Regions from separate parts of the Homo sapiens genome. Here region 1 is linked to region 2. The links come from fine-mapping of genetic effects on gene expression. A gene starts in region 2. The other region holds a variant in brackets. All regions are shown on one strand. Distances are between the middles of the regions. Region 1 has its middle 14 kb from the start of NPR2. Region 2 holds the start of FAM221B (family with sequence similarity 221 member B).

Region 1 (10,307 bases), 52 kb after region 2:
AAACCTTGTAATAATAAAGTTAGATTTCAATTTAAAATTGTGTGAGTGTTTTATTTTAAGGAGCTCATGAACAAAAATATTTGAGCTCTGCAGCTCAAAATAACACTTTGAAAATCAGTGACTAAACAATGACTCTTGATGCTACCAAACCTAAATCTTCCTTCTAATAATTATTTTCTAACGGCACCTTTACTAACTTAAAATAAAATGCATAGATAATACAACCTATCTCTACACATAATTTCAAAACATCAATAAAATTTCCTACCTGTAATATAGAAGAGAAATAATAGCCGGGCATAGTGGCAGGCGCCTGTAATCTCAGCTACTCTGGAGGCTGAGGCACAAGAATCCCTGGAACCCGGGAGGGGGAGGTTGCAGTGAGCCGAGATCACACCACTGCACTCCAGCCTGGGCAACAGAGTGAGACTCTATCTCAAAAAAAAAAAAAAAAAAAAACGAGAGAAATAAAAGACAATAACTTATTTTAAAAACAGGTATTTCAATATGTAAATGGTTGGATATAACTGTGATAGAACACCAAAGGAGGCACTCAGCTAATTGTAATTAGATGCTTCCATCTAATTACAGGGAATGAATAAATTTTGATTTAAGAGATCTGAAGCCACTCCATAAAGAAAGATACTGGATTAAACACCAGTGTTAGGATAAGCAATAACAGAACAGATGTATTTATATATATATTTATATATAACACCCTACACAACTGTTTGGTGGAATATTTGAAGACTGTGCAGAACTCAGGATATCTAAATCATGCCGAATTCAGGACATTTATTTGACACCTAAAAGGTATTGCCAGTGTCAAGGTACAAGGATTAACAACCAAAACAAGGTGAAATTCCTTCTCTCATGGAATACATTCTTAATTATGTGGAACTGTCCTCACATTGCAGAGTCTAACATCTGCGGCCTCCAACTACTACAATGCCAGTAGCACCCACTCTCATCACTATAGCAACCAAGAAAATGCCCCTTCCCCTCCACCCCCTCCTGCCTGCCCCCCCACCCCCTCCCCCCACCCCCACTATCTCCTGCGCACCCACCACGGACCAAAATGCCCCTCCAGGAAAAGTACTACTGCTGTTCAGAGCCACTAGCCTGCAGGATGGAGAACAAGAATCTCAGTCCACCAGGTGGTCCTGGCTCCATCTTCCTCTCCAGCCTCCTCTGCAGCCACATATGCCTTCTAAACATATAGAGCTATCTATAGTCCTCTAAGTGGGTCATGTTATTCTATGCCCATGGGTTTTCTGTCAGCCTGAAATGTTTTCTCTTCCCTTGAGTTCTAATTAGTCTTTTTTGAGGCTTACTCAGGCCACTTTTCAATTTAATTTAATACATTTGTTTTAAAGTAGGTACTTTCTGCCCCATTAGATTGTGTATTCCATGAGAAGGAATTTTATCGTCCTTAATCTTTGTACCTTACATTGGCAGTATATTTTAGAATTCAAATAAATGTTTTCTCAATGGATATATGAGTATGGATGAAGGGATTCACTTTATTTTTATTTATTTGGTCATATTTTGAGACAGAGTCTCACTCTGTTACCCAGGCTGGAGTGCAGTGGCGCCATCTTGGCTCACTGCAACCTCCATCCCCCGAGACTCAATCAATCCTCCCACTTCAGCCTCCCAAATAGCTGGGACCACAGATGCACACCACCACGCCTGGTTGTTTTTTGTTTGTTTGTTTGTTTGTTTTGTATTTTTGGTAGAGATGGAGTTTCACCATGTTGCCCAGGCTGATCTCAAACTGCTGAGCTCAAGTGATCCACCCTCCTCATCCTCCCAAAGTGCTGGGATCACAGGTGTGAGCCACCGTGCCCAGCCAGGGATTCACTTTAAAAGAAAAAGAAATTCCTCTGAGACTGCAGGGAAAGGTGGAACAATGGATTCAGGGATAGATTTCGTGACGGATAAATTTAACTTATCTGTTGAGCATTGAGCTTGGTCAGGTATAAACATAACCTGCCACCCATCAGTCTTCATCTGTGCCATGACAAATGTCTCCTTTGTACCTCTTCACAACATCATGGTCAGAGTCCATAACACTCTGCTCCCTTTTGGTTATTTAAAGACTCAGTCCGATATGGCTTAAAACTCCAGTCTCAGGTCCAATGCAGAACTCATCTTAAGCCATGGCTTAAGGAACCTGCGGTGGAGAGAAGAATATGATCCCTTCTATTGATTCTGCTTCTCCTCTTCTAGTTCTCTGGAAGGTTCTCTAGAAGGGTTTTAGCTCCTTGGTGGTTGAGAACTAGGAGGAGGGCAGGGAGGAAAAGAACAACTCTCTTTTTATTTAACAAGGTAGTTATCACAAACCACTGTTTGCTGACAGACCATGCCAACCTGTTGTTTGGCAGATGTCAAAATGCTATCTTTCTTGCACATGGTGGCTCATGCCTGTAAGCCCAAGGCATTGGAAGGCTGAGGCAGGAGGATCACTTGAGCCCAGGAGTTTGAGACCAGCCTGGGCAACGTAGAGAGACCCTGTCTCTAAGAAAATTTTTTTTTAATTAGCCGAGTGTGGTGGCACATAACCTGCAGTCCCAGATACTCAGAAGGCTGAGGCAGGAGGATCACTTGTGCCCAAGAGATTCAGGCTGCAATAAGCCATGATCACAACACTATACCCCAGCCTAGGCAACAGACCCCATCTTAAAAAAAAAGATGCTGGCTCTCTTATGAGACAGTTATGTGAGTTCTTTAGAAGGTCCTACTGGGCTTCTCCACTGAGTTGTGCCCTAATGCAGAGAATCCTGATCCAAGCCATCTCTTTAACCCTCCTAACTTCTGTTCAGTGGCAGCCTTTTGGATGGGTTACCAGCATGATGGCTCAAGCCCGGCGATCTTCCTCAGTGTCCCTTTGATCACAGAAACTCACATACCCTTGCTAAGCCAAACAGAATGAATGCAGACTATTCCACTACTATCCCCTTACTCTGCCCTTCCTCCTTTCTCTAATTGCCTTTCCTCTTCTCAGACAGGTGCGGAGCTGAACAAATCCACTGTCTAAACAGATAGTTTAACCAAGGAATGAGAAATCAATCTCTCTTTCATGTAGATCTCTTTCATACTCCCTTGCTTACTTTAAGGGGGGAAAGGAGGGAAAAGTACTCCCTGCTAGGCTCATGACAGCCTCCCTTCAGTCATCTTTTATCTTATATAGCCTGGGAATGGAGGTGGGGTGGTAAGGTATGGGTTGGCTGGAAGTTGCAGGGCCACTTCTGCTACCTCTTTGTAAGCCCTGGAGAGGAGCTCTGATCCAATTATTAGCAACTCTCTCTAGAACGTGCAGTATTTAGTCCTCTTTGTCCCAGCTTTGGACCCTAGTCACCAATTCCAGGGCAATAGAAAAAAACCTTACTCAACATCCTCTATAATATATTGAAATGAAGGGAAGGTTATATGAAATAAGGAGCTCAACTGCATTCCTCAATGGGGAAGCAAAGTCATCTTTTGAGTGACAGAAGGAACCAGGAGTTTGAAAGTTCAGGCAGAATAAAGAAGACAGAGATAGACTGGAGATAGAACATCAGATGAAAGCCATGTATACTCTCTTTTCCCCATTAAAATATAAAAAGCACATATACATATTATTCCACAACATTTTACATATCATTTCAGGTGCACGTGGATCTAGGAGCTAAAGGATCCCAGATTAACAAGCCTTGGGCTTAAGAGAAAGCAAACAGGAAGGCGAATGTGCATTATTTGTGCATTCGAGAGGAGGGAGTGGGTATGTAGGCAGGCAAAGCCAATGCACAAAAGGAAGGCTGGACATTTAGGGACTTGCATCCACCCAGAAGCCATCCATGTCAGACACCAGTTTGACATGTCATATTATATTCCAAAGTATTCTGACTGCTTGAACACTTTTGTATATTCAGCTTATTTTTCAGTATAATGTTGTGATACATCCTTCTACAGAGTTAATATGATTAATAATTGAGGGACTTTAGAGAAGGGGCCAGAAATTTAATTATGCTTTAAAACGTAGCTTTTGGACTGGAAACTGTTAACAGCGAATACCTCCCTGAAGGGGAACAAGGTATCTAAAGGGCAAGATGAAAGAGACAGTTTTTTCATTATCTATCATTTTGTATACCTTTTTTTGACACAGAATTTCGCTCTTGTTGCCCAGGCTGTAGAACAATGGCATGATCTTGGCTCACTGCAACCTCTGTCTCCCGGGTTCAAGTGATTCTCCTGCCTCAGCCTCCCGAGTAGCTGGGATTACAGGCATGCGCCACCACGCCCGGCCAATTTTTTTGTATTTTTAGTAGAGACGGGGTTTCTCCATGTTGATCAGGCTGGTCTCAAACTCCCGACCTCAGGTGATCTGCCCACCTCGGCTTCCCAAAGCGCTGGGATTACAGGCATGAGCCACCGCGCCTGGCCCATTTTGTATAGCTTTAATTTTGTAACAGGTGTGCAAGTATGACCTATTCAAAATTTTTAATTAAAAATGAATCTTAATCATAAACAAGAAAGCATAAAAATATGTCATTGATATGGGGTGCTTGATATCTTGAATGTTTTAAAGGATGGCAATGGGACCTCAAAGGGAAAGATGGGATTTCTTTTAATAGATAAACACACATGGTGAATCCCTCATAGCTGTAGCAAGGAGATTAAAAACATCAAAGGGCAGAACGGTAACATCAGAGCTAAGAAGGCTTTTCTGAAAACCAGTCATTTGGAACCAAAAGATAAAGTATTACAAAAAGTATAATCCAAGATCAGTAGGTCTGAAGAAGAAGAGTTAGAACTAGAACATCTTACAAGAAACAAGTACCAGGCTGGGCGCGTTGGCTCACACCTGTAATCCTAGCACTTTGGGAGGCCAAGATGGAAGGATCATTTGAGGCCAAAGTTTGAAACCAGCCTGGTCAACATAGCAAGACCCTATCTCTCTCTCTATATATATAAAAATAAATAAATGAAAGAAACAAGTACAAAAAAAAAAAAAACCACAAAACATGATTTAGGCCTGGCACAGTGGCTCACGCCTGTAATCCCAGCACTTTGGGAGGCTGAGGAGGGTGGATCACGAGGTCAGGAGATCGAGACCATCCTGGCTAACATAGTGAAACCCCATCTCTACTAAAAATACAAAAAATTAGCCAGGCATGGTGGTGGGCACCTGTAGTCCCAGCTACTGGGGAGGCTGAGGCAGGAGAAAGGTGTGAACCTGGGAGGCGGAGCTTGCAGTGAGCCAAGATCATGCCACCGCACTCCAGCCTGGGTGACAGAGCAAGACTCTGTCTCAAAAAAAAAAAAAAAAAAAAGAAAAACACCTGATTTAGATAACTTCATGTATAATGTCATAAAAACAAAGCTAAGATTGGTTGGGGTATATCTGGCCCAAGAATAAATTCAATTATTTTGATTTTCCACAAAGCAAATTTTTTTTTTTTTTTTGAGACAGAGTCTCACTCTGTCACCCAGGCTGGAGTGCAGTAGTGCCAGCTCGGCTCACTGGACGCTCCACCTCCCAGGTTCAAGCGATTCTCCTGCCTCAGCCTCCTGAGTAGCTGGGACTACAGTCGCCCGCCACCACGTCCGGCTAATTTTTTGTATTTTTAGTGGAGACGAGGTTTCACCGTGTTAGCCAGGATGGTCTCGATCTCCTGACCTCATGATCTGCTCACCTTGGCCTCCCAAAGTGCTGGGATTACAGGCGTGAACCACCGCGCCTGGCCCACAAAGCAAATCTTGATCAAACACTAGACAAGATGAACTGTAGGGCTGACTTAGACTCTTCCTTGAGGGCCAAGGATGACACTTTGAAAATAAAGAAATAAAATATTTATTTAGATGAGAATAGGGGGCCAGATGCGGTTGCTCATGCCTGTAATCCCAACAATTTGGGAGGCCGAGGGAGGTAGATCACCTGAGGTTAGGAGTTCAAGACCAGCCTAGCCAACATAATGAAACCCTGTCTCTACTGAAAATACAAAAATTAGCCAGGCATGGTGCAGACGCCCGTAATT[C/T]CAGCTACTCGGGAGGCTGAGGGCAGGAGAATTGATTGAACCCAGGAGGTGAAGGTTGCAGTGAACCGAGATCATACCACTGCGCCCCAGCCTGGATGACACAGCAAGACTCCATCTAAAAAAAAAAAAGAAGAAGAAGGAGAAGGAGAATAGGCCAAAAACAACAGGCATGATCTATATGACTGCAAAGGTTCCACATGAGTAGTCGTCATTGTCCTAAACACCTGCTGGGTCACCAAGAGAGAAAAACAGAGGAGTAATTTGATGCCAGCCTCTCCCACCAGTGACAGCTAAGAACACCTCCCACTACTGAGGGTAGCTAAACTGTCTAACAAAAAGGTCAAAGAAGTTTGCCTATCATCTGTGATTCAGAGGAAAACAAGAAAAGAGCATTACTGTTTTTTTCTTTCAAATCTAGGCCTTAAGCTAACCTGTTAGAGGTCAAATAAACAGGCTCCAAAATCCCCAGATTAAGACCTATTTGCAGTAACAATAAATGTAAAAGCACCTTGTATATTGTAAAGCATTATATAAATGTCCATTATTATGGTAATTATTAGGGGTCCGTCATATCCAAAATTGAACTACATCCCACCATCAGCAGTTTGGGACCATATTCTGGAAGAGTAAAGCAAAAATTTTTTTAAAAGAGTTTGCTTGTTTTTACACTGTGTAAAGGTTTTCAAATTTTTCATCTCTTCATTGAAAAGTCTAATAAGAAGAGCTGATCAGTAGTATATGACCAAAAAAGAGAAACTGTTCAACTTAGTTCAATATCCTTAAGAAGTGTACTAACTAGGAAGAGACAAACGCAAGCTTATGTGGAAGCGTGTGTAGTAAATGGTGGCGCTCCTTCCCATTCCCTCCACAGATGGCTTCCTGCTGAGCTCAGTCAGGGAGGCACTGGCAGAAAACTGAACGAGAGAAGCCAGACTATCTCTTCCCCTTCTCTCCCAGCCTTGGCCAGCATCTGGACAGGCACTCTTTGGCCCCAGCTTCCCTAGAACAGGCCCCCAAAGTTCCGGCTTCTAAGTTACCCTGCCCCTTGCACTTCCCCTCCTTCCCACAGCCTAGGGAGAATAGAAGGTTCGGTTGCTAATCTTCCCCTGCATTGCCTCACCTTCCCTTGAAAGGCTTCTCAGCTCTTCCACCATATTCACAGCCAGCTAATTCTCTGGATTAAATGCCCTCTGGTTTAAATGCTTAGAGTGAGTTCTGTTTTCCTGTTTGGACCCTAAATCTGGCAGCTAAACAAAAAAAAATGAATTTACTGCACTGAGGGCAAAGACCCTGGCTCCAAAACTGCCAAGTTCAAGGTTCACTGCTATCAGTGTGGGTCCATCCAGATGGAGTAATATAGAGGAGTGAAGAGACAGAACTGATTTCCCTTTTCTCCCAAAGGAACACAGGAGAGAAAATGAATTTGGAGAAAACAGAGAGAAAAGGGTATTATAAATTTCCTGCTTCCCAATCCTCGAGACAATATGGGGAGGAGGCTGCTGAAAAAGACAAGGATGTGACTGAAGCCCCCCCCACCAAAATTTGGGATGAGTCAAAGAGGGGAATTGACCTGTATAAAAACCAAAAACACTGAAAAGATTATAGTACTCCCCTCCTCCAAAAAAGAAATAAAAATAAAATCAATAAATTCAAATTTCCCCATAGTAACTATTTCCATGTTTTTTTTTGTTTTGTTTTTGAGACAGAGTCTTGCTCTGTCGCCCAGGATGGAATGCAGCGGCACAATCTCGGCTCACTGCAAGCTCCGCCTCCCGGGTTCACGCCACTCTCCTGCCTCAGCCTCCCCAGTAGCTGGGACTACAGGCGCCCGCCAACACGCCCGGCTATTTTGTATTTTTAGTAGAGACGGGGTTTCACCGTGTTAGCCAGGATGGTCTCTATCTCCTGACCTCGTGATCCACCCGCCTCAGCCTCCCAAAGTGCTGGGATTACAGGCGTGAGCCACCGCGCCCGGCCAAGTACTTCCATGTTTTTAAAAACACAGCAACATCCTTTCCTCCAAATCTATTTAGTACCACTGCTTTGCTGGGACCCTAAAGGCACACACTTAGTCTGCCTACCGGGTCATCCAGCAAAAGGCCTGTGCAGCCTGCCCTGACCAGAGCTGAGCACAGTCAGTCTCTCAGGGAGGGAGGCGTTTGCTGCCATGGGGGAGCAAGGTGCTGAGGCTGAGTCTCCTGAGGACCCAGCAGTGGTAGAACTGGGGTATGACCCCTTCAGAGTCCCATGTACATTCAACGAAAACCGGAATAACCCAGATTAACCATTCACTTCATTCAACCAACTTATAATAATTTTTGACTGTTTTAATGAAATTTATCATCAGAGAATAAAGTTTGTGCACCAATACACATTTTTTAAAGTGGCTATAAAACTGAAATAACAATGGATTGTTTTTTCACATATAAAAAGATCTTCAGAAATAATAATACGGGCCAGGTGTGGTGGCTCACACCTGCAACCCCAACACTGGGAGTCCAAGGCAGGAGGATTGCTTGAGCTCAGGAGTTCAAGACCAGCCTGGGCAACATAGCAAGACCCCATCTCTTTTATTTATTTTAAAAATTAAATAAATAAATAATTTTTAAAAAGAAACCTGGGGCTGGGCTCGGTGGCTCACGCCTGTAATCCCAGCATTTTGGGAGGCCAAGGTGGGTGGATTATCTGAGGTCAGGAGTTCGAGACCAGCCTGGCCAACATGATGAAACCCCATCTCTACTAAAAACACAAAAATTAGCCAGGCCTAGTGGCATGCGCCTGTAGTCACAGCTACTTGGGAGGCTGTGGCAGGAGAATCGCTTGAATCCAGGAGGCAGAGGTTGCAGTGAGCCAAGATAGCACCACTGCATTCCAGCCTGGGTGACAAAGCAGCCTCCGTCTCAAAAAAAAAAAGAAAAAGGAAACCTGGAACAGTATAAATCAAAATGTTAAGAGTGACTGTCTCTTTAGGAATAGTATGTGTTAGAATTTATACATATATATTTCTTTTCTTTTCTTTTCTTTCTTTTTACTTAAGACAGGTTCTTACTCTGTCATCCAGGCTGACAGAGTAGTGCGATCTCAGCTCACTGCAGGCTCAACCTCCTGGGCTCAAGCAATCCTCCTGCCTCAGCCTCCTGAGTAGCTGGGATTATAGGCATTCACCACCACACCTGGCTATTTGTTTTTTATTTTTCGTAGAGACAAGGTCTCACTATATTGCCCAGGCTGGTCTTGAACTCCTGGGCTCAAGTGATCCTCCCGACTCAGCCTCCCAAAGTGCTGGGGTAACAGGTGTGAGCCACCATGCCTGGCTGTACTTTTCAATAATTATGTATTACTTTTGCAATAAGAAGCTATATATGGGTTTTTTTAAGGTACCACAAGGATAAAAGAATACCAAAGGACTTTTTGTAAATGTCACTGAAATAGGTCTGTAGTCTCCACTTAACAAATACACCAGTAAAGTTTGAGAGTTTTATGTATAAATTACCAGCATATTTGTTTATGAAGACATATTACTTTAAAACACAACTTTATAGCTCATTTATACAACCCCACCACAGTTAGTATGCAGCTCAAAAAATATTTGTTGAATAGTCTAGTATAAAACTTTTTTTTTTTTTTTTTTTGAGACAGAGTCTCGCTCTGTTGCCCAGGCTGGAGTGCCGTGGTCCGATCTCGGCTCACTGCAAGCTCCGCCTCCCAGGTTCACGCCATTCTCCTGCCTCAGCCTCCTGAGTAGCTGGAACTACAGGCGCCCGCCACCACGCCCGGCTAATTTTTTGTATTTTTAGGAGATGGGGTTTCACCGTGTTAGCCAGGATGGTCTCGATCCCCTGACCTCATGATCCGCCTGCCTCGGCCTCCCAAAGTGCTGGGATTACAGCCGTGAGCCACCGCGCCTGGCCTCTAGTATAAAATTTTTACAAATGATCTGGATGAAGAAGAATACAGTGGAGTTGTTAGTTTGCATATGACAGTAAGTTCCTCCAGTTACACATCAGTCACATTTGATGTTACTGTCATCTACTTAAAACTCTTACCATGGTTTCTATAATAGCTCATACTCATAGTCATCCTTCCATCTCAATATCCAGCTGATGTCTCCCCGTGATGAAGATCCTCTTCTTCCTCTGAGCTCGAAGCTCCCCATCTCCAGGCTCTAGTCCTCAGATTTCTGCATTCTTCTTTCCACACTCATTTCCTTGGTGAGTTAATCCATAACCATGCCGTCACCTGTCACCTTGATGCATATAACTGACAGTAGAAAATGACCTTGTTTCA
Region 2 (10,307 bases):
CAACTCCACAAATGCTCTCCTCTGAGCCAGGAACTGGGTTTCAGGCTGCAGATCTGAAACCTAGCCATCATCTGGTTTAATCCTTACGTTAATCTTATTTAAAAAAAAACAAAAACAAAAACAAAAAAACCCTCCTTTTACAGATAAGGAAACTGAGGCTCAAACCTAGACCAAACTGAGGATGCAAACCTAGCTCTCTCTAAATCCAAAACTAAGACCCTTTGACTTCACAGCTGCCTCCTCACTTAGGAGCCATTTTCTCCACTTACCAAACCTAAAAAAAACAGATGTGTGGAAGGTGTGTGTGTGTGTGTGTGTGTGTGTGTGTGTGTGTGTGTATTTTGGCATGGCGTCTTAAGCCACTGAGCAGGCTGAAACTCCACCTGTGGGGCTTGGGAGTCAGCATGGAACTGTGTAACTTCCTTGTTGATTTTCTTCCCCTTTCTGTTCCCCTGTGGTTAGGAGCAGTAAAAACCCTCAGCAGCCTCACAAGCGCTGCCTGTATACTGGCTCAGGGCAGGAGAGGGGAGGGGAAAGTGTGGTACGGCTGCCAGGGGCCTGCTTGGGTGGCAAAAGCAAGGACAGGAGCTGGCAGGCCACCATGAGAGTCCCCAGGAAAGGAGAGTCATCAGGCCTCCCAGGTCAGAATGCACAGCTAGTAGGTGGGGGCCGGGGGAATGTTCCCCCAAAGGGAAGCCCAGTGAGGCAGTGAGTTAGTGACCCAGTGGATTTCAAGCCCCTTGGGAATATTCAGAGCAGGCCGAGTTGGGAGGTGGGGAGGAAGTGGTCATCCCTCATTAAAATGCCAAGATACCTGATCATGATTGTCAGGAGCAGAGCCAAGGTGAGCAGAAGTTGTGTCAGCAGCTAGCCAGGCAAGGGACTAGAATAGCTGTCACAGTGGAGGCAACCAGTAGCAGACAGGGGAAGAGGGTCCCAAATGGCAGGCAAGGTCTCTCAAAGTAAACCTCTAGGGAATCTGACTGCTCTGGAGACTTCGGACCAGCCAGAAAAGAAGCCCAAGATGACACCTCCAGGACAGGTGAGAAGGTGGGGAACTCAGCAGCTTCAGGACAGACCCGGGGCTGGAATAAGGACTACTCTGGAGGGGCATTTTCAGCCAAGCAGGAAATACCCTCAGGGCTAACCTAGTCCAATCATCTCCCTCTCTGGAGATGGGAGAGATTAACTCCAAAAATGAGGTGTTTTTGAAATAACAAAGAAAGGGAAGGGGAGGCTGCTGAAGGACGAACACTGAACCAGAGCAACCCCAGGAGTCACCCCAGAGAGCTGCCCTACATAGGTGGGGGCCATTGGAGGCCACGGTTACACTCAAGGACTAGTCTGTCCAGTTCAGACCACATGATCAGTCTCAACTGTCAGGAAGGAAAACCTGTCACCTTGCAAGCTGAGCACTGCCTAGGAACCCAGAGAGGCTACCAGTGCAGCATTCAGAGAGTGATAGAGATGCAGCCGAGAGGGATAAAGGGAAATGGGACCGACTGATGGAAGAGACGGGTTTCCTAGGAACCCTAGCTGTGCTAAGTAGGAGGCAGAAGGCTAAGAGGTGAACAGCCTGGATACTATTGTTAGAAGAAATCAGAACTCTAGCGCACCTTCTGCTGGGGTTAGGGAAGGGCTGATCCTCCTCAAAGCTGGTACCAGGGATGGGTCATCTGATCAACCATTGCTACCGTTAGGAGAAATGTTGGTCAGTCCCTCGGTGCAGACCCTCAGATGAGGGCTAGTGGTGAAAAGCAGTTTAATGACCTTTGGGAAACATGGACAGACAAGCACAAAGATCCTTGTAATTCAAAGGATCACAGTATGGCCTGGGGAACTGGGGAACTAGCTAAGCCATCCCCACAGTGGCCAGGGGCTACAGAGGTCACAGAATAGGCCAGTGAGATAAAGGAGTGAGCAGCAGCTGGGAATGCTAGGAGGAACTTGGAAGAAGTTCTGAGGGCAGATGCTTGAGAAAGGGTCCACAGCCCCATTCACTCCAAACTTTGGTTTGCGGTTTGAACAGGGCCTACCAGAGCTGTGTCCAGAAGAAGCATGAGTAAGGCCCTTACCGAGTTCAGATGAACTTATTCCAGGTTCCCCAATATTTCTATGATGAAGCTAGGGTAATTCCGACCATCACCCACCCCATACACACATACACATACACACACACACACACACACACACACACACACCCCTACACCTACACACATAGGCTGAGGCTGGCCCTGCTAGTAATAGCACTAGGTAGAATAAAAGCCCATTTTTTTTTGAATAGCAAGGCACGTGTGAGTCCTCAACTAAGCCCAAGGAAAAGATCCAAGGATCAGGAGTGGGACCACTAGACCCAAGAGATAACTTCCATTCCTGAAATGAAACCGAAGCAACCAATAAGCACTGTGCAGCCCTGTGCCATGATGGTCCTATGACACTGCCAGCCTCTCCTCAGACAAAACCCATCACCACCATTAGGTCACAGAGCACCCTGTACTTTGGTCCAAAATTGCCAAGGCATTCATTATTAACAGCACTAAAGGCAGCCCTGCCTCCATTTGGGTGTATTGGTACTCTTTTCCAACTTCATTACAATTCTCCCCAAAGCACCTGAACCTGCTTCTGGGCAACAGTGTTTTTATCCACAACTTTCAGCTGTATATGCTCTGTGGCTGTCGGTCACCCTGCTCCCCTCACCAGCCCAATGCTTGCTCAATGGGCACATGAAGAAGCCATGATGGCAGAGGATGGAAGCTAGGAACTTGGCCCAACAGCATAAACTTCCCCTTACCAAAACTGAAAACCTGACTGGCTACTGCCTCTGCCCAGTGTCCAATTTGCCAGCAGCAGTAATCAACACAGAGTGCCTCCACAGCTCCTTCCTTCAAAGGCACTGGCTGGGGATGGATGGATAACTTATATTCGTTATGGGAGGCATGCAACACTGCCCTCACCCTTGGAACTGCTGAGAAAGGGTCTCCAGCCCCATTCACAGCTTCAGTGATCTGTCCATATGAGGAGGAGGCAGAGCTGAAGAGGAATGTACATGGGCCACAACATGTCCCCTCCCCTTCATACCATAACACAGGCGCTCAGAAGATACACTGGCTCACATGCACCCCACACACATGCACGTGTCTACACTTAACAACACACAAGCATGTACACATGCTGCCAGCCTCCCCACAATCCCTCAGTTACACACATACACATAAGTGACCAGACATCTCTGCAGGGGTTGTGACCTTTCACGTGCATTCGTCTCCTTAAGTTTGTACACTGAACCAGGCCCCCAGAGCTCACTGATACCCATTCTCCACCCCCCAGCTGTTCTGTTGGCTGTTATTTCCAAAGACTCCATCAGGCACATCTCCATCCTATCTAGAGTGACACCCACCAGAGGTGGCTACAGACTTGGGCCATGAAGACTACAGTCACTCCATGATGGAGCCATCTTCATGGCACATCCCCTAGACCAGGACACCCCCTCCTCCTCCCACATTCCAACCATTAAAAAATTGGACCTCTCTCTCTTCTGTCCAAGTCACTTCCCCACCGGAGGGTGGCCCTTGGCTGACGCCTGGCAAATAAGGAACAGTTTGTGGATAAAGCACCCTTGTGGGCAGACCGGGGAGAAGGGAGGTTATGCTTTGAGCCTTTCCCCACTTGGGTCTATTTTTCTATTAAGTATACATTGCAGTGGATAAAAAAAAACACACTAGTATGAAATAGGAATTAGGAAACCTTTTTTCTAGCCCCAGCACACTGCCATTCACAAGCTCTCTGACTTTGGACAAATTGCTCCCTCCCTGAGCCTCAGTTTCCCCATCTGTAAAATAGCCTCCGAGTTTCAGCCCTGCTCTAAAAGTATCAGGAATTATTCCTAGGCAAATCAATCTTCTTTGGAACAAGAATCATTACAAGAAGAAAACTCATTATAATGGCAACTAATCCATATTCATCTATTTGCTACATATTATCTTTAAAACTCTTCTTCATGCCGTTTGAATGCATGCCCAATATCTCAAAGGTTTGGGCTATATATTCCCACACTACACTAGGGGCTTCTGGTGTGGGACTGTCTCTCCCCCATCAAACTTTGTGAGCAGGAGCAAAGCCCACAACATTTCCCTGGAAAAGCAAGAGTCAAAGTGGGGTCAGGACAGACACCAGAAAAAATCTTGGAGTCTCTGTGCTAGAAACTGTAAGCCACCTGCTGAGCCTCAAACCCAATTAATTACCACTCTTTTGACCCTGCCAATCCCTGTTGTGTAAGACCTCTCTACTCTCTATTTCTCCCACTTGCTCCCCAATGATCTAGTTCCCCAGGTCCCACCTCTCCTGAATCTCTCCAGCCCACCCCTCCCTGCCGGAACCCCATTCCTGCCTCAATCTTCCCTGCTTCTGCACTCACCAGCCCCTGGGCCAAGGACAGAGAACAGCAACAGCAGCAATAGGGCTGGCGGCAGCTGAAACCCAGACTTGAGTCTAGGCTGGGAGAGGGGCAGAGTATGAGAGATAGGGGGGACTAGAGGGAGAGACTTGGGTAAACACAGAGATGAGGGCAAAGGCTGAGATAATGGGTTGGGCTGGGCTGGACACTGGGGCTTGAACAAGGGCAGGGAGTGGGATGGAAGGAAGGGCTGTGATGGGGACTGCAGCAAGGGACGGGGTTGAGCCAGGGCCTTAAGCAAACACTGGGAATGGGGCTGGGACAGGGCCTGGGCTGGGATTTGTGACAGGGGGTGGAACGAGGGCCGAGGCCGGGATGGGGGCCAGGCCAGGGGCAGAGACTGGAAGGGGGTCCTGGATGGGGACCCAGGCAGGGGCTGGGGCCGATGTGGGAAGCGGGGCGAGGGCGGGGCTGGGGGCCAAGGCGGGGATTGGGATAGGACGAGGGGCCGGGACAAGGGCTGGGCCATGGCCCGGGGCGGGGGCGGGGCCGGACAGGCCAGCGCGGGGCGCTCGCAGAGCTGGCCCGCGGCTCCGCTCCCCACCCCCGGGGGGTGGCCTCCGGTGTCCTCGCGGGCCCGGGGCGGGGGCCGGGGACCTGGGTAGGAGTTCAGGCCTGGGCGACTCCGGGCTGCGCTGAACCGGCGATAACCAGGCCCCGCGGCGGCGGCCTCGACTTGACGTCGGCGTGACGCCCCGCCCCCCGGCCGGCTCGATTGGTCCCTGTCAGTAAAGCCCGCCCCCGCCCTACTCTATTGGTCCCCAACTTAGTCCTGCTGGGCTTCGAGGACACACAGACTCCGCCCCCGCCTCAGCTACCCGAGACCCTGCCTTTCTCACCCCAAGCACAGAGCCCGAGGTCCCCTCAGATCCTCACAGCCCCCAACGACCGCCCCACAGATGTCTCAAAGGAACCCTATCCTCACAATCCCAGACTCCCCCGGACGTACGCACAGATCTCCGCAGATCCTACCCAAACACTCGCTCACAGAGATCCCGCAACACACACCCCACTTTTCAGAAGTAAACCCTCTGGGCTCGCCCCCTCGAGGCCCAATGCAAGCCCCTCAGGAGACCTTACCCACCGGGGAGGTGACCAGACCGCCGTTGCCACGGAGACTACTAGGCGTTCCGGTTGCCCTGGTGACCGGCGCCTACTCTCCTGGCCCGGGTTCCGGAGGCTTCAGTCAAGACCCTCCCTCATTGGCCCTAGACCCCTTGTCCCTACCCACTTCCCCAGGTCATGCCAGAGCTCCTTTGCGAAGTTCTGCAGATATCCAAGTCCCCTTCCCAGATAGCAGACTTTCAGGCAAGGCATTTCAACACTCAGCACCTGCAGCTGAGGCACATCCACAACCAAGAGCCTTTCCTCCCTGAGGATCAACACCTCCCCCTGCCATCCTAAGTCAAGGTCTTGACCTAAGGACTTGTAACAACCAAGCCAAAGCCCAGAGGGTAGGTGGTTTCTCCAACGGCCCTTGCCCTCTTCCCTCAAAGACATCTGTCTTTCTCCCACCCCTCAGTCCCTTCACATTGTTGTAGTAGTAGTAGTAGTAGTAGTAGTAGTAGTAGTAGTAGTAGTAGTTGTTGTTGTTGTTGTTGTTGTTGTTGTTGTTGTTGTTGTTTGAGACAGAGTCTCGCTCTGTCCCCCAGGCTGGAGTGCAGTGGTGCGATCTGGGCTCACTGCAACCTCCGCCTCCCAGGTTCAAGTGATTTGCTTGCTTCAGCCTCCCCAGTAGCTGGGACTACAGGCGCCTGCCACCATGCCCAGCTAATTTTTGTATTTTTAGTAGAGACTGGGTTTCACCATGTTGGCCAGGCTGGTCTCGAACTCCTGACCTCAAGTGATCCACCCGCCTTGGCCTCCCAAATTCTGGGATTACTGGCATGAGCCACCATGCCTGGCCCACATTCTGTACTTTTCATCCTTACTCTCCTCCTCCACCCAATTTCCTCCTCCCCTTCTCTTTCCCCTTCCTCACCTCCCATCTTCTGGTTCTCCACTCTTAGGCCCCTTTTCTCTCTAGCTGACTCTGGTCATCTTCCTCCCTGTAATCCTACCTCTGCCCCTAATTCCCTTCCCAAACATCCCCTTCAAAAAGGCTCTGATGCATTTAAGGAGTGATATATCTAGCGTCTCTGGAACATGGGGGTAAAGTAGGGAGCACGGAAAGTTAAGGCAGGAATCCTCAGGCTGTGTTGAAAATGATGACAGGCCTTGAATGCCAGGGCCAAGAAATTTGGACTTAATCCTTTAGACTGAGTCATGGAATGTTTTTAAGCCACAAAGTGCCAGTTGTTGGGCTTGCACTTTAGAAAGATCCTGATTGGGTCAGGAAGGAGGACTACATCCTTGCAGGATAAATTAGGTATATCCCCCTCCCCACCGTATCCTAGACTCACCCCAGAACAACATCAATTTATTTGTATTGCCATTGTTGGTTAATCGGTCTCTCTCCTAGACTCAACTCAATCTAGAGCTTAGCACAGCGGGTCAGTAAAAGCATCAGATTAGGCTCATTGTAAAAGTATAAGTTACATAAATCCATGAAAGAATGGGTGAATGGATTAAAATGCTGTGGATGGAAGTAGAGGGGCAAAGTTATTACACAAAGGCTGAAGATGATGAGAACTTGAATAAAATTGGAAGGGAGAGGAGAGAATGCATTTGGGGAATATTTAGAAGATAGGAAATAGAGTTATTGGTGCCTATTTGAAGATGGAGTCTAAGGGAAAAGGAAAAGACTAGGATAATTCCCAAAGTTCAGTTTTGCTGTCTGTGGAAACACTCAGTTAGAAATGACCAGCAGGGGCCAAGCACGGTGGCTCACTCCTGTAATCTCAGCACTTTGGGAGGCCAAGCAGGGCAGATCACCTGAGGTCAGGAGTTCAAGACCAGCCTGACCAACATGGTGAAACCCCGTCTCTACTAAAAATATAAAACTTAGCCGGGCATGGTGGCACACGCCTGTAATTCCAGCTACTTGGGAGGCTGAGGCAGGAGAATCACTTGAACCCGGGAGGCGGAGGTTGCAGTGAACCGAGATTGCGCCACTGCACTCCAGTCTGGGCAACAGAGCGAGACTCCATCACAAAAAGAGAAGAGAAGAGAAGGCCAGCAGGCAGGTGGGTATGAGTGTGAAGTACAGAGGTTGAAAAAGGTCTGAGCTAGAAATGTGAATTTAGGAGTCATTGGTACACAACTGGAAGTAGTTAAAGCTTTGAACATGAATGACATCATTAAGGGAGGAGGATGTGTGTGGTGCCTAGACAAAACCAGGCTGCGTGCAGTGTCTTGCCTTATGTGACAGCATTCCCCTGCACTCTCAGGAGCCAACCCCAACTTTGGCTTGGTATTGCCAGTCTCTAGAACTCCATGGTCTGACCTCCAGGGTTTTAAGATATGCCAAGGACCCTGCTCTTGGACTGCCCAAGTGGTGTTGTTCAGACTCCCTCCTGGGACATGGTTCTCTGCTACCATCTACTGATGGGATTCGAACTACTTCAGTCTTTCAATCTTTAAGTTCCAGCTCCCTAACAAGCCACAGCAGCATGCCATATGAGGTCTGGACACATGGGTGAACCTTTTGGCATCACACTCTAGGACCCAGAGTTCATGTTGTTTCCCTCTTATATCTCAGCTGCACTGATATCCTTATCCAAATTCCATAATGCACTGCGAACCCTGGGCTCTGCCCTGACTTGCCGGCCCTCTATTTCCAACCTAATGAAGCCTGTACCCTGTTCTACCACTAGATGGAAGCACATGAGATCATAGAAGAGCCTCATATCACCATGGATGCAGAGAAGCACCCCCCTTCAAAGGACCCCTCTGCTGAGGACTTACAGGAGAACCATATCTCTGAAAGCTTCTTGAAGCCTTCCACCTCTGAGACCCCGTTAGAGCCCCATACCTCTGAATCCCCTTTGGTGCCATCCCCTTCCCAGATCCCCTTAGAGGCCCATTCCCCTGAAACCCATCAGGAGCCTTCCATCTCTGAGACTCCTTCAGAGACCCCTACCTATGAGGCTTCATTGGATAGTCCCATCTCAGTGGTGCCAGAGAAACACCTTACTCTTCCTCCCCAATCACGAGACTATGTCTGTCTGTCTTCTTCTGATACTCTGAAGGAAGACCTCTCCTCTGAGTCTTCTTCCAATGAGGTCCCATGGACAAGGAGGTCTACCCATCTCTCTGAATCTGAGAGCCTTCCAGAACACTGTCTTTCAGGCCCTTCATCCCAGGTCCAAGTGGACACAACCGAAAAGCAGGAGGAAGAAGCAGGAGAGGTTGAAAAGGGAGTAGATGCCAGTGACAGCACTGCTCACACAGCCCAACCTGGACACCAACTAGGCAAGAAGAAGAAGAAGAAAGGAGTTAGCTGTAATTGTACCTGTCCTCTCCCCTGTCCTGTTCTCACTACTATTCACTGTCCTTGACTTGCCCCAGGAGGAGGAGACTGGGTTACTCTTGGACATGGCCCCTTCTCTTAGTTTTAGGGCCTTCTCACTTCCCCCTGGTTACTCATCCTCTCCCATCCTAGGTAACACAGCCCGCCCAGTGTTCCCTGCTAGGCAGACAGAGCTGGTGGAAGTGGCTAAGGCAATGCATAGAGAGGAGTTTGGTGCTCAAGTGAACAATCTTTTCCAGTGGGAGAAGGATGCAGCCCTGAATGCCATCCAGACAGGTGAGCCCATGTGGCCTTTCAGAGGCCTGTGACAGGCCCATGGGCATCCTCTAATCCAAAAGATCTGGGAACCTGAACATTCAGCAGATAGCTTCCCCTTTTGGAAATGGCTATACCACCTGCCTGGAAAAGGAGCAGGCAAGTGGGCCAAGGAATACAAGGGTGGATGCAGACAAAAAGTGGGGAGATTCATATAAAGCCCAGGTAGAGACAGGTAGCTGAACTAAAATTATTAAACACAGAAGGGTCGGCTGGGCGCGGTGGCTCACGCCTGTAATCCCAGCACTTTGGGAGGCCGAGATGGGCGGATCACGAGGTCAGGAGATCGAGACTGTCCTGGGTAACACGATGAAACCCCGTCTCTACTGAAAATACAAAAAATTAGCCGGGCGTGGTGGCAGGTGCCTGTAGTCCCAGCTACTCGGGAGGCTGAGGCAGGAGAATGGCGTGAACCCGGGAGGTGGAGCTTGCAGTGAGCCGAGATTGCGCCACTGCACTCCAGCCTGGGCAACAGAGCGAGACTCCGTCTCAAAAAAAAAAAAAAACCAAAAAACAAAAAACAAAAAAAAACAGAAGGGTCATGGCCCACCCCAGATATAGGGCCCAGAGAGCCTACAGACCCTAAAGCAGAGATGGCCCAGGACCCTGGACAGTCCCCAGGAGACTTGCTGTTCTGACATGACAAAGACCTTAGTCCCTTTGGTGGAACTCCATTAAAAGGCTGTCACCCCTGCATGCCAGGCCCATGCTGGGTACCCAAAAGCTTTGAGTTCTGTTACCAAAGGGGAGACCTGTGTCCTCTGGCCCTGCTGTTTCCAAGCCTCAGCCTGTGATTAGTACTCTTGACAGTCCTGTTAGTGGCATGCTGCGTACAGATGAACTTGCAAAAACATGCCATCCTATGCATGAGCATGCCTACCTGTGTTATGGAAATTCATGTCTATAGGGATTACCTTCAGTAAGAGGGCCACCCTGACCTGCTATAAGGATTCTGGTCTTTCTAGACTGAATTCAATAGATGTTATGACATTTATTTTGGTCCTTCATACTTCCTTTCCCTTTATGATGGGAATAGAGCTACGATGACAGGCCTAAAACATAAAGACAAGCAGGTAATTCTAAATGCTTATCCCTCCTCCATGAAATTTACTTTCCCCTTTCCCATGC

Evidence for each region. PIP is the estimated chance that this variant, and not a neighbour inherited with it, causes the effect.
Region 1: its variant is fine-mapped to the expression of FAM221B in whole blood (TOPMed, PIP above 0.99).

The regions. Positions count from the first base shown.
Region 1 is chr9:35,772,136-35,782,442 of GRCh38, reverse strand. It overlaps a transcript of RGP1 not described here. Among named protein-coding and RNA genes, the nearest start is that of NPR2, 14 kb to the left of the region's middle. The variant C/T (reference allele first, on the strand shown) is at 6,021.
Region 2 is chr9:35,824,063-35,834,369 of GRCh38, reverse strand. FAM221B (family with sequence similarity 221 member B) reads left to right here and starts at 5,638. Exons shown (of 7, transcript NM_001012446.4): 1 at 5,638-5,907; 2 at 8,209-8,806; 3 at 8,997-9,140. The coding sequence starts at 8,209. TMEM8B (transmembrane protein 8B) reads right to left here and starts at 5,142. Exons shown (of 13, transcript NM_001042590.4): 1 at 4,415-5,142. The coding sequence starts at 4,922. RefSeq lists enhancers at 4,050-4,550, 7,914-8,273 and a silencer at 4,836-5,285.